Homo sapiens: one gene and its partner. The protein of the gene in region 2 purifies or fractionates together with the protein of the main gene of each other region. This does not show direct contact. Each region holds a gene or a part of one and is shown on either strand. Other genes may lie near its edges.

Region 1 (7,028 bases), on a different chromosome or scaffold from region 2:
ATTTCTAGGTAGAAATTTCTGAATTTGAATACTAATTCTAAATCAGTCATTCTTTTTCTTCATATCATTTAAGGAAACAAATGCAGACATGCAAATTAAATGACCTATCCATAAAAGAAGTTTAATAGTTTCTTTTTTTTTTTTTCTTAAACACTTCCAATGATGTAATGTTATTTAACGTGCTACTTTACCTCTGAACTTTTTCCTTTAACTTTTCCTCGCTGGGCATTCTTCATCTGTTCATGGTATTGCTCTATAAGTAAGGCTGACAGTACATAGAGCTTCTTGACACGTAAAGGTTTACTTCCTTTCTTTGCCTCTTCATCTGCAATCTTAAACATTTTTCAAAATTGAGGGAAGTTACTTCTTATCTATATTTGTACAAATACAATCATTTCCAAAACTAACAAATTTGATTCCCTAAAAAAGGAGGAAAATCAGTAAGATGGAATATAAATATCACCTATTTAAGATAAATATTTTAAAACCTATCTTCTTTTCATTAGTACCTATTCGTATTTAGTTCTTTCCTTAGTATTTAGCCCTAGGAGTTGGAATTCAGATCACTCTTAGAAAATGAGAGGTGCTGTTAGATAACTAAATCAGAATAAAGAAAGTATTGATGAAATGCTGGTATTTTCCATAATACAGAGATTTTTAAAATAATGTTCCAAGTACACAAAGATATGATAGTGTTAACATGGTGCATCCTTCAGAAGCTGAAACTTATTTAAATGATTTTAAGAGATATTTTTCCTTTTTCATTAAATCAAATGGGAATAGAATAGAAGGTAAAATGTGTATACATTAATACTGTACTAATTATCTTCCCTCCAAATAAATATTATGTAAAGCGTAATATTTAAAACTTGTACATTTAAAAGAACTTAAAACTCTATTATCAACAAAATTTAATTCCCTGTTGTAGAAATTTGTACTTTGCAGTCTCAGTAATTTCTTTAACTCTTTGTTAACTCCAGTATTCAACATACAATTGTTTAGGTATTAGTAAGTTGCTAATATTAATAAACATCTTTGTTGGTAAAAGGCAATAATACTAAAATAATGTATACAGAAGCAATAAAACCAGAGTGGTTTTGCTGTAATAAATATTTGTTTCCAAAGAAAATGGAGAATATGCTCTTTCATATATTAAAATATTGTGACTGGAACAAATCAACTATTCACCAAGATTTTTACATTACCTTAAACATCAGTTTAGCTGCATCAAAAAAGTAATTGGCTTTCCGATAGAGTTCTATGGCATCAAGAGTTTTATTCTTTTCCAGTAAATGAGATGCATACCTAGCTAACAGAGATCCAATTTCTTTCATACTATGATTTTTAGCCAATTCAACAGCTTTGTTCCACTAGGAGAAAAATTACACCATTCAGTCACCCAAGTATTTACAGTCACATATATCATAAAATTCACACAAGAAAGCTTTAAGTTTATAGTAAAAACACTATTTCAAAATTAAAAACTGGTATGTTTTAAAAATAGCATTTAAAATCACAGCAACATAAGTCCTATAAGCATAAGTCAAAATGATTAAATGATCTCTAAGACTCTGATTTGCTTAAGAAATACATGTGAAAATGAAAGTTTCAAAGTTTATAATCATATTAATCTTGTAATTCTAATCTTACAAAACTTCAAGCAAGAAAGATACACTTGTTTATATGTTATAGTAAAACAAAATATGCAATTTCAGTTGTGAAAATGTCCTATCAGATTTGACATTTAAAAATTATTTTTATAAAGCAAAAGGGGTTTTAAAAAATAAGAAAAATATTAAAAGAATACATTAATAGTCAATAGTTTCTATAATAACGCTGTACTTTTAGTTTAATTTCAGCTCTTAAAAATATCAAATGTATGTTTTCTATAAAGGAAAAGGAAAACAGATTTGCCAAAATAAATATTGATAAAGTAACTCAATTCCTTCCTCAGGCAATGACCAACCATTAACTGGTCCTTCTTTGGAAACAAAACCCAACCCTAACAAAATGCAGAAAATTATGAAATTACTTCCAGACAAAAACTTGCCAGACTAAAAGCACAAGGTTTGTTCATGCTCCCATACTGAGCTGGTTATAAGTGGGTCACCCCTCATGGTAGCACTTTAAGAGGTAAGTGCAACTTTCTTCATCCTCAATTAAGAGAATACCCGCCTGGCTCCTTTCATAAAATTCACGTCAGGCTCTCCAACCCTTACATTGGCAATAATCTTTAAAAGATCACTAGGGTGACTTTAACCTTGCTTTGACTTAAAAATTCCTAAGACAATAAGCTGCACAGACAGAAAGTTTCAGTTCCTACTTGGTTGAGATGTACGCAGGTATCTACTGCTGCCTTTGGTTGACTACATTTCAAAAATGCAGTCACTGCTTGTTCACACATTCCAACTCTGACAAACATTTGTGCTATTTCCTGTACAAACAAAACAATACTATCAGATTTCACAGACCAAGGAAATTACTTATATTTTAATTTAACAAAACTCCGTAGGGACGTATGAGTATTAAATTTACTGGTAGTTACAGATTTTTCTTGTAAACAGACGCAAGGGCAGAGGGTACAAATGAGAATGGATGCTAAGGCATCACTTCTATAAATCCAGAGCTTCACTGGCTCAGGCTGTGGATCTGATTTTTAACGAGGCCCTGAAGACACTGCACTCCTTTCTTATCTCAGTTCAGTAGCTAGTATACAGAAATGTCAAGCTCCAAAACAAATCCCCCACCAGTGGGTGAAAAAAGCCTTTATATCAATTGGTGGTATACTCAGTGCTAATTATTAACTAGAGACTTAAGGGAAATCTCACATTCACAGAGCCCTCAAATACCTCTATAAAGAAATGTCCTAGAGAAGTCTGCCATTAATCAGTTCAGGAAGCTAGACCCAAAACAGAGCTCTCTTGGAAAGTGGTGGCAGCGAGGAAGAACCACCACCACCACCACCACCACCACCACCACCACCACCACCACCACCACAAAAAAAAATCCTACTTGTTCAGCTGCACTGGCCATTTTCAGAACATCATTTTTTTTCTTTCAGAATATCTAATTAGCCAGAGGTTTTCCCTCCCCAACCCTTCTACAATATGTTTGGAAGTATGAAAGTATATTTTATATCCAACTTTTAAAACAATGCTTATATTTTTCTGATTATAAGGGAATACATTCTATCTGTAAAAAAAATTACAAAACATGAAAAAGTGAAATTACTCATAATCTTATCATTCATAAGAAACCTCTCTCAATACTCTGGTGCAATTTCTTAACATCTTTGTCCTTTGAATATATATGTATATGTTTGTGTTGTACACAATCACACAATACACAATTTTGTATCCTGTATTTCCTACTTAAATATTATGTACACCTTCCCATATTATTAAAAATTCTTCTATAACTCTATTTAAAATTTATAATACTAAAATTTTTACTATTTTAGTTATTTAATTATCATTATAGTTATAATTACTTAGCATTTACTCAGGAATATTACTATTCTGGATACCCTACAGCAAAATGTTTATCGGCATCATCAGACACATCTAACAGACAACACTAACGGAGTATACACTCTTCCCTATACCCAGGGTTCTAAGTAATTTCAGTTTCTTTCCTACTCAAGAAAACCCATAGGATTGAAAATAAGGGTGAGTGAAAATACCATTATTACAGAGATAGCCGCTCAAATTCACAATAGGGAAAACTGAATTACCGTAATTCTATACTTATCTATTAACTAATAGGCAAAATTTTTGAAGCAGAACTCACAACTGATATACATCCAGACTCTGCAGTTGAGAGCTGCTAGCTCTACAAGTATTGTACGGCTCAGTGATTCACATATTAAACACATAAAATACAAACTTATTTACAGTATTCAACAATTAATTAAGAGGCTCTAAAAGAACATTTGAAAGCAAGAGAACTCTTTCCATTTCTCTTTTAACTTGAAATACTTTATTGTTAATATAACATAATAAAAGTTGAGCTATCTTTTTAAACTTAAGTTATAGCAAATTTCAAACAATTTCAGATTATTTTGAAGCAAATCCCTAGCAACATATCATTTCATCTGTAAATATTTCATGTATTCAGCTAACATTTAAAAAGTAACTTTATAAATCTTAACAGACTACACAAGACTGTGATCATATTAAAGTAGTAAGAATGTGACTGACTTTTCCTCCTCCATTTTCAAGCATTCTATATTATTTATATATTACTTTATAATTAAAAGCATCATTCCATGTCTAAGAAACTGTAACATTATAGATTTTTAATTTTCTTTATTGTGGGAGATATTTCCTGACTATAACATAAAATTTTATAAAGTAACCTAACAATTCCAAAAACTAAAATTTGCAATACCTACTGGAAGTAACTTGTGGTTTTCTGGAAGTGAAATGGCAAGGTTCTCTAACCCTTCATAATCCTCTAACATATAGTAACATTCAGCTAAGCGTTCCTGGTTCCGTCCTTGTACATAATATTGTACAGCATTCAACCTACAGAAAGAAAAAAGGAAAAACTTTTAAAACTAATGTGAATCTCCTGATAAATAAGCACTTTCAACCAAAATGTTCCTTCATCATAATTCCCAGTACTAGTATTACTGTTCATTATCTTCAGCTTCAGAATAACTTTCAAACATATAAATGGGGAAAAAAATCTAAAGCATATTCTAGTTGTAACATTCCTTGACTATTCTTAAGAAATACCACCGCTTTACTCCCAAACACTGACATAAATAAGCATACTAATCAAAATGAAAAGAAAAGCCAATGATTTCTGAAAATAATATATAATAAAGCAAATAAAAACACTTATTAAACTTTGTTCAAAAATAAAACATAAAACACCTTAGAATTATATACTGTAGGCTCAAACAGAAAGCTGCATGGAGCTAAGTACAAGTTTTGTGTTTATACACTACAAATTTTTATAGTGCTCATCTCACAACTTCACAGGATCTCCGGCTTTCCAAGATGAATCTAGAGCTATCTGAATTTTAGAATTCAAGAAAATGATCTTCATTTCCCCAGGATTACTTCCTAGAGAAGTACTCAGGCAGCTACTAAGTGTTGCATGAATGCTTGAGGAGCTCCAGGTAAGTTACATACCACTTTTGTCGATCAGCAAAGTAGTCTCCAATGGCATTGTTGGCTTGTTCCAGGAGACTGTCATCTGCATCACCAGATCCAGTTTTCAGGAGCTGGAGTACTCTAAACCAATCCCCCAATTTCAGCCGGAGGCCAATAGCAAGATCCCTACAAACAAAGGCATTCATTCATTCATTCATCTATTTGACAAATATTTACCAAGAGCCTGCTGTGTGTTAGGTACAGTTCTAGGTGCTGAGGCTACACAGCAGTGGACAATGTGACTCTCCAAACACTTTAGGAACTTAGCCTGACTAGCTAAGAGGAAATGAGGAGCACCTGGAGGTTATGGTTTGAATGTGTGTCCCCTCCAAAATTCATGTTAAAACTTAATCTCCATTGTGGTAGTATTAAGAGGTGGGGTTTCTGGGAAGTCATTATGTCTGCCCTTATGAATTGATTAATGCCCTCATAAAAGACTCCTCAGAGAATTTGCCCCTTTTGCCCTTTTCACTTTCCACCATGTAAAGGCATAACATTCAAAGCACCATCTTGAAAGTGAGACAGGGCCCTCAACAGACACCAAACTTGTTGACGCCTTGATCTTAGACTTCCTAGTCTCCAGAACTGTGAGAAAAATATTTCTGTTCTTTATAAATTATCCAGTCTCAGGTATCTTGTTATAGCACCCCAAATGGTCTAAGATACCAGAACAGGGAAAAGAATGTTGTGCCTTTACTTTCCTGGACTTTCAATTTATTTAGCAAAATAATGATTTAAATAACAATCATTTCTTTTCAGCAATTTCTTAGATGTGATCAGGTTTATTTCAAAACAAAACACAGTGTTAACACATGTGGTTTTATATGACTTTTCAGAGCCTAAGTCATATTAGAGATCTCCTGGGAGTATAAATAACATTAATGAAGATGAGATACAATCTTAACAGCTGAAATGAAGTTCAGACAGACTCTCCGCCTTGTGGTTCAGTGGCTAAGATTATCTGCTTTCATAGCAGCTGCCTGGGTTTGATTCCTGGCCAGGGAGACAGGCCTTACAGTTCTTTAATTCAAAAGAAGAAATATTTATGAAGTTCATACATTATTTTATATAAATCAAAAACGAAATATAAAGAACTAATCTCGATCCCTAACGACTTCTGATTTTTATTTTATGCCTCTTGACAACATAAAATTAAATAATGGCCTAAACAAACAAAGAAAGAAAGAACTGGAATAATGAGCTATGTCTTAAATATAAAAGATCCCAGTCTCTGTTGTTCTATCATTTTTTCCCATCAAATGAAAAAAAAACCTCCCAGAGTCAGCCATTATTAGATGTAAAAACAGAGAAGAAAACTGCCTCCAGACTATGAAACACAAATGAATGAGAGGCATGTAGAATATCTAGGTTGTAATCCAAACTTAAAATTAATTTCTAAAAGGAACCATATGATACACCTAACGTATTTATAGTTTCCATTTGTAAAAAATACAATGATGAACTGATAGAGTACTCAGGGATGCCTGCGCCTTCATAACTTACCTTCTGTCCATCTCGAGATACGTTCTTTCAGCCTCTTCAAACCTGCCGAAGTAGCCAACAACTTCAGCCTGTTTCATTGACTCACTCAGTAGTTTGCCCAAGCGCTTCACAAACTTAATGCCTTGGTAATCTTTGCAGCGCACAAATGCTTGCTCTGCAGTGTATAGATCCAGTTTCTGAAGAGCTGCTTCAGCCAGTAGGCGCCTTTATTTTAAAAGAAACAAAAACATAAGTGCATATTGCAAATTACTGACAAACTAGTCTTGAATCACAATTCAATTATCATTTATGTCTATTATTTCTAGAGAAACATGGTGGAAAGTAACATATGCAAACATTTTTCAAATAATTTTCTGCTTATTT
Region 2 (7,028 bases):
GGTTGCAGTGAGCTGAGATGGTGCCACTGCACTCCAGCCTGGGCAACAGAGTGAGACTCCATCTCAAAAAATCATAATAATTTACCAGTGCTGCAGCTCTTTTTAGAATTTGTCTAGCAAGTTTTCCTGTTTTTACTGAAGCCTTCCCTTCCCTTCCAAATAACAAAAAGTACACTTTTTTTTTTTTTAAGAGTTCGGGTGGGCCGAGACGGGCGGATCACGAGGTCAGGAGATAGAGACCATCCTGGCTGACACGGTGAAACCCCGTCTCTACTAAAAATACAAAAATTAGCCGGGCATGGTGGCGCGCGCCTGTAGTCCCAGCTACTTGGGAGGCTGAGGCAGGAGAGTGGCGTGAACCCGGGAGGCGGAGCTTGCAGTGAGTCGAGATCGCGCCACTGCGCTCCAGCCTGGGCGACAGAGCGAGACTCCGTCTCAAAAAAAAAAAGAGTTCGGGTGTAATTCTGTCACCCAGGCTGGGGTGCAGTGGCACAAGCATAGCTCACTTTAGCCTCAAAATCCTGGGCTTAAGTGATCCAACCACCTCAGCTAGCTAGGACTACAGACACACAGGTACCATCGTGACCAGCTAATTTTTTTAAAAAAACTTTTTATGGAGACAGGTCTCAAACTGGTGGCCTCAAGCAGTCCTTCTGCCTCAGCCTCCCAAAGTGCTAGGAGTTCAAGCACGAGCCACTGTGCCCTGCCTAAATTTTTTTTGTTTTGTTTTTTTGAGACAGAGTCTCTGTCTCCCAGGCTATAGTACAGTGGCACAGTCTCGGCTCGCTGCAAGCTCCGCCTCCCAGGTTCAAGCGATTCTCCTGCCTCAGCCTCCTGAGTAGCTGGGACTACAGGTGCGTGCCACCACACCCGGCTAATTTTTTGTATTTTAGTAGAGATGGGGTTTCACCATGTTAGCCAGGATGGTCTCAATCTCCTGACTTCGTGATCTGCCCACCTCAGCCTCCCAAAGTGCTGGGATTACAGGCATGAGCCACCGCGCCCAGCCTGCCCTGCCTAAAATTTACAACTTTAATCAATTTTAAGTGTGAGATTCAGTGACATTAAGTGTATTAACAATGTTGTGCAACCATCACTACCATCCATCTCCAGAACTTTTTCATCATCCCAGAGACTTCACACCCATTCAAGATAATTCCTCATTCTCCCCTGCCCCCAGCCCCTAGTAACCTCTATTCTACTTTCTGTCTCTATGAATTTGCCTGTTTTATGTATTTGGACAAAATAGTTGTGTTTACGGTCAGAATAGTTAAGAATGTTTTAAGCAAGAAAATTAAAACTATCTTTGTTTCAAAGACCTTTTTTAAACAGTGTTGGCAGTGCTAACAGTTCTTCCTTTTCTGCTAGATATCTCTGAAAGTGTGAACTTCGATGAGGAGACTGATGGAATATCCCAGTCAGCATGTTTAGAAAGACCCAATTCTGCATCAAGCCAGAATTCAACCGTATGTAGTTCTGAAACTTCTTCCATTAGAGCTAATTTGACTCTTTCTCAAACATATCTTCAGTATTTATTTATTTATTATTATTATGTATTTTTTGAGGTGGAGTCTCGCTCTGTCACCCAGGCTGGAGTGCAGTGGCATGATCTCAGCTCACTGCAAACTCCGCCTCCCGGGTTCACGCCATTCTCCTGCCTCAATCTCCCGAGTAGCTGGGACTACAGGCGCCCGCCATGACACCCGGCTAATTTTTTGTATTTTTAGTAGAGACAGGGTTTCACCATGTTTGCCAGGATGGTCTCGATCTCCTGACCTCGTGATCCGCCCGCCTCAGCCTCCCAAAGTGCTGGGATTACAGGCATGAGCCACCGTGCCCAGCCCTCAAACATATCTTCAGTATTTAAATACCATTACTGAGTGAGGGTTCCTTCAGAAGTGTAAGCTCAAATTTAGTTTATGATCTAATTTTTTCTGTCTCAGGTCAGCTATTGTGAGGCTTTGTCCCATTTTGATACTTACTCTTCATTACTCTCAATATTCATATACTTAATTTAACTTTTCAGTTTTCCTCATTCTGTCAGAAGACTGAAGACACGGGTAAATTACTAAGTTGCTTTGTCCACTAAGTGTTTTTCAAAGAGAATCAGATTTTGAGTCTCGGCCTGTTGTTGCTCATGTATGGCTGTCCTTTCAGGATACAGGCACTTCCGGTTCTGCTACTGCCGCCCAACCAGCTGATAACCTCCTGGGAGACATAGACGACCTGGAGGACTTTGTGTATAGTCCTGCCCCTCAAGGTGTCACAGTAAGATGTCGGATAATCCGGGATAAAAGGGGAATGGATCGGGGTCTCTTCCCCACCTACTATATGTACTTGGAAAAAGAAGAAAATCAGAAGGTATGAGAATTGATTTCTAAGAAAACTCTTGAGAGAGAGAAGAATGTTGTGGGAATAGATTGTTGATGGGCCTTAGGGAACTAACTCTGGTATTAGACCAAGCCAGCTGGAAGTAGATTGTATCTTTCAGTCCCCAGATGCTGTGTTCTCATTTTCTGCAAAGAGCTCATGGTCTAATAGGCAGCAAGCTCTACCCTCCCACAAATAAGAGCTTTATCCACGAAGTGGGAAAATGGACGGGTAGTTGTTAATGTAATTATTTTCACCTGTCTCCCATGATTGAGTTTTTGAATGTTACTGTTTGTTCTTTTGGTTTTTCTTTTTATTACGGAAGAACATGACATTGTGGAAGGAGAGTGAGTTTTAGGGAATAGGAGGAATTAGAAATACAGAAGGACCTACAAGTTAAATGTCTTGTTTCTCACCCTAGAAGTTCTAATTTATTTTATAAGTTTGAGCCAGCGATGAACTTTATTTTATTAATTTTGTATTAATACCAGGTCTTAACAGATGATTTTAAGAGCCTAGAAATAAGATAATGATACTAGGTGTTAATTCTTCTAACCACCATTTATTGAGTGTTTACGACAGACCAAGCATATGCATATATATCTATATATATTATCACCTGTAATCCTTGCAGCCACCTTGTTAGGTAGGATTTCTTACCTCTGCTTTAAAGATGAGGTAACTGGGGCTTAGGGAGTGACTTACCTACCCCACGTTGCACTAAGTGGTGGCAGAGCCAAATTCAAACCTATTTTGCATAATTCTAAAGTCTTCCTGCTTAGCCACTGCCACTCTCCTGCTTCCCTATTATGGTCCTAGTCTAGGAGAGTTTAGGAAGGATGCCTATATAGGATGGTATTCATGCCATTGAGGTCACAGTGGTTTAACACAACAGCAGTATAGAAAAAAGAGTATTTCCTCCCTGGAGAGGCTTCCCTTTTGTCCCTTCTTGCCCTTTGCCTAATCAGAGTCTTTCCTGATGTGCTTCACCAGATGTGGTTGACATTCCTCTGTCTGTGTCCCCATGGCATGAAGAAAGCTATCACAGGCCAGGTGCGGTGGCTCACACGTATGATCCCAGCACTTCGGGAGGCTGAGGCAGGTGGATCCCTTGAGGACATGAGCTCGAGACCAGCTTGGCTAACATGGGGAGACCCTGCCTCTAGCAAAAAATTAAAAAATTAGCCAGGAGTGGTGGCATGCACCTGTAGTTCCAGCTACTCGGGAGGCTGAGGCAGGAAAATCACTTGAACCTGGGAGGCAGAGGTTGCAGTGAGCTGTGATTGCACCACTGCACTCTAGCCTGGGTGACAGAGTGAGACCCTATCTCAAAAAAAAAAAAAAAAAAAAGCCATCACAGTAAAGAATGGGAAGGTTTTCAGGATCCTGTCTCTCCTAAGGTTGGAAAGACTCTTAATCATGGCATTGGATGAACATTGATTGTTATTTATTTATTGGATTTTGCAAGGTTGCCCAGGCTGGCCTTGAACTCCTGGACTCCAGTGATCCCTCTACCTCAGCCTCCCAAGCAGCTGGGATTATAGGCTCATGCCACCTGGCCCAGCTTTGGAGATTTTTTTTTTAACTGGAAGTTTTAGGGATGAAGTTGTAACTAATTATATGGAGAATCAAGCTAGTGAATTTAGAAAAACTGTATAGGAAGAAAACCCTGATAGTGAATTATTTTATTTTTATTTTTTATTTTTTTTTTGAGACAGAGTCTCATTCTGTCACCCAGGCTGGAGTGCAATGGCATGATCTCGGCTCACTGCAAGCTCCGCCTCCTGGGTTCATGCCATTCTCCTGCCTCAGCCTCCTGAGTAGCTGGGACTGCAGGCGTCTGCAACCACGCCCAGCTAATTTTTTGTATTTTTAGTAGAGACAGGGTTTACGGTGTTAGCCAGGATGGTCTCGATCTCCTGACCTTGTGATCTGCCCACCTCGGCCTCCCAAAGTGCTGGGATTACAGGCGTGAGCCACCACACCCTGCCTGATAGTGAATTCTGATAAGAGAGTTAGAGAAAGGGATAAAGGCCCAAAGATTAACAGCTTGACATATGCTGAGGACTTGCTAAGCACTGGCTGAATGAATATGTAGGACAACCATGACCAGAGGTGGGGCAGGTTCTCTGGACTTCATTTTTGACTGACACTTTTTCTTTTCCCAGATATTTCTTCTTGCAGCTAGAAAGCGGAAAAAGAGCAAAACAGCCAACTACCTTATCTCCATTGATCCAGTTGATTTATCTCGTGAAGGAGAAAGTTATGTCGGCAAGCTTAGGTGAAAGCAACCTTAGATCACTGTCCTATTCTTTCTGATAGTCTTATTCCTATAGTTGCAGAACAGTCCTTATCTTGGTTACAACTAGCATGTATTGATGTTGTAATCTTAAAAAAAAAGAAAAAGGAAAAAAAAAAAAGCTGGGCGCAGTGGCTCACACCTGTAATCCCAGCACTTTGAGAGGCCAAGGCGGGCGGATCACTTGAAGTCAGGAGTTGGAGTCCAGCCTGGCCAACATGGCAGAACTCCCTCTCTACTAAAAATACAAAAATCAGCCAGGTGTGGTAGAACAGCCTGTAATTCCAGCTACCCGGGAGGCTGAAGCACGAGAATTGCTTGAATCCAGGAGGCAGAGGTTGCCGTGAGCCAAGATAGTGCCACTGCACCCCAGCCTGGGTAACAGAATGAGAGTCTGTCTCAAAAAAATAAAAAAATAAGGCTGGTGTGGTGGCTCAGGCCTATAATCCCAGCATTTGGGGAGGCTGAGGTGGAGGATCACTTGAGGCCAGGAGTTTGAGACCAGCCTGGGCAACACACTGAGACATTATCTCTTCAAAAAACTTTAAAATTAGCCAGGCGTGGCAGTTCTCACCTGTAGCCCCAGCTACCCAGGAGGCTAAGGTGGGAGGATGACTTGAGCCTGGGAGTTTGAGGCTGCAGTGAGCTATGATCCCTGCCACTGCACTCCAGCCTGGGCGACAGAGCGAGACCCTGTCTCGAATTAGTAAGTAAATAAAAAGTTAAAAGAAAATCTCAGTTCCTTCCTTGCTTTAATGAGATATTTTTGAAAAAGTGATGATGAACATTGAGACATTTGGAAAACAGGCAAATAGGCTTCCATTTTCCTTCTCTTAGATTGTGTTTGTATAAGAAAAAAAATACAGATCATCATGGTGACTTTTTCTCCTGACTCCAGATCCAACCTCATGGGGACCAAGTTTACAGTTTATGACCGTGGCATCTGCCCCATGAAGGGCCGGGGTTTGGTAGGAGCGGCCCACACCCGGCAGGAGCTGGCTGCCATCTCCTATGTGAGTGCTGCTTTCCCAGGGCCGCTGCCTGCCCTCCTGGTGTCCTGCTGGCACTTTTCACCTAGTGTCGCTGAAGAACCTCCCCTCCCAAGCTTGTTTCTATTTCTGTGATTTCTGTTGCTGTACCATTTTCTCCATGTATTTGAGTTTTAGTTATTTGAATTGCCAAGTTCAATTATTTTTCACTCTCAGAACATTTCTTCCCTTATTTCCTTTTCTTTTTTCCTGCTGCCACTTAATTCAGACCTTTACTTCTTACCCAGTGGCCAAAGGTTACAATAAATTAAAGCTGATCTTTTTTTGCTTTTAATCTTTTCCTATCTAGTTCATTCTCTTTTTTCTCTTTTTAATCTCTTTTTCTTATTTTTTTTCCTCTTTTTGGCATTTATAGTCCACTTCTTTTTAAATTGTATCTTATTATTATTTGTTTTATTGTCCTTTTTCATTTCATTTCACACCCGGGAAAGGCTTGAGAACTATCTAGCTCGTTCTCTGCTGCCACCAAATGAATCTTCCTACAACGAGGCTCCAGTTGATCCTCCTGTTCTGCTTCAAATCTTTTAGTGACTACCCATTGTGTGAGATCTAACATGGTAGCATTTGCTTTCAGACTTCTCTATTGGCATGCCCCTCCTTCCCATCATTCTAGCCAAGCAGCCCTCCTGTCATTCCTTTGTCCAACCACACTCATCTTTCCTCCTTGGAGAGGCTTCCCTTTTCCTCTTTCTGGCCTTTTGCCTTATCAAAGTCTTTTCTGATGTACTCCACTAGATGTGGTTGACATTCCTTCATCTGCGTCCTTGTAGCATTTGTAACCCACATGTATTTGTTATTACTTGTTCAACATGAACCGTTTCCACCAGTTTGTAAACTTGTGAATTCTTACTCATGGCTATATCCATACTAGCACATGGCTTGGCACACAGTAGATATTCAAAGAGTTGTTGAGTAAGAGAAAGCAAGAAGGAATTGACCCATCTCAGCTGGTTTTTTTATTCCAAAGTCTCAACTTTCTTAAGTTGAAATTAATCCCATGAGATCTTATCTACATGCCTGAGAACCATTTGACTTCACACTTTAATGTAAGGTGTCTTTCCTCTATAGCTTTCATATATAATCTGCTTGGCTTGGCTGGGCTTGGTGGCTCACACCTGTAATCCCAGCACTTTGGGAGGCTGAGGTGGGCAGATCACTTGAGCCCAGGAGAGACCAGCCTAGGCAACATGGTGAAACCCCATCTCTACTAAAAATACAAAAATTAGCCGGGCATGGTGGCAGTCGCTGGAGTCCCAGCTACTGGGGGCACTGAGGCAAGAGGATCACCTGAGTCTTAGGAGGGTCGAGGC

The links. The genes of interacting proteins can lie anywhere in the genome.
Region 1: the proteins of TULP3 (region 2) and WDR35 purify together in Homo sapiens (affinity purification with mass spectrometry; 6 studies listed by BioGRID and IntAct, with this or other methods). This does not show direct contact.

Annotation. Positions count from the first base shown.
Region 1 is NC_000002.12:19,931,078-19,938,105, forward strand, and holds part of WDR35 (WD repeat-containing protein 35), read right to left. Parts: intron 6,870-7,028; coding exon 6,666-6,869; intron 5,289-6,665; coding exon 5,142-5,288; intron 4,527-5,141; coding exon 4,394-4,526; intron 2,435-4,393; coding exon 2,324-2,434; intron 1,371-2,323; coding exon 1,206-1,370; intron 333-1,205; coding exon 192-332; intron 1-191. UniProt on the Homo sapiens protein: As a component of the IFT complex A (IFT-A), a complex required for retrograde ciliary transport and entry into cilia of G protein-coupled receptors (GPCRs), it is involved in ciliogenesis and ciliary protein trafficking.
Region 2 is NC_000012.12:2,928,880-2,935,907, forward strand, and holds part of TULP3 (tubby-related protein 3), read left to right. Parts: intron 1-85; exon of another isoform or gene 86-146; intron 147-1,368; coding exon 1,369-1,466; intron 1,467-2,157; coding exon 2,158-2,361; intron 2,362-4,538; coding exon 4,539-4,651; intron 4,652-5,567; coding exon 5,568-5,682; intron 5,683-7,028. UniProt on the Homo sapiens protein: Negative regulator of the Shh signaling transduction pathway: recruited to primary cilia via association with the IFT complex A (IFT-A) and is required for recruitment of G protein-coupled receptor GPR161 to cilia, a promoter of PKA-dependent basal repression machinery in Shh signaling.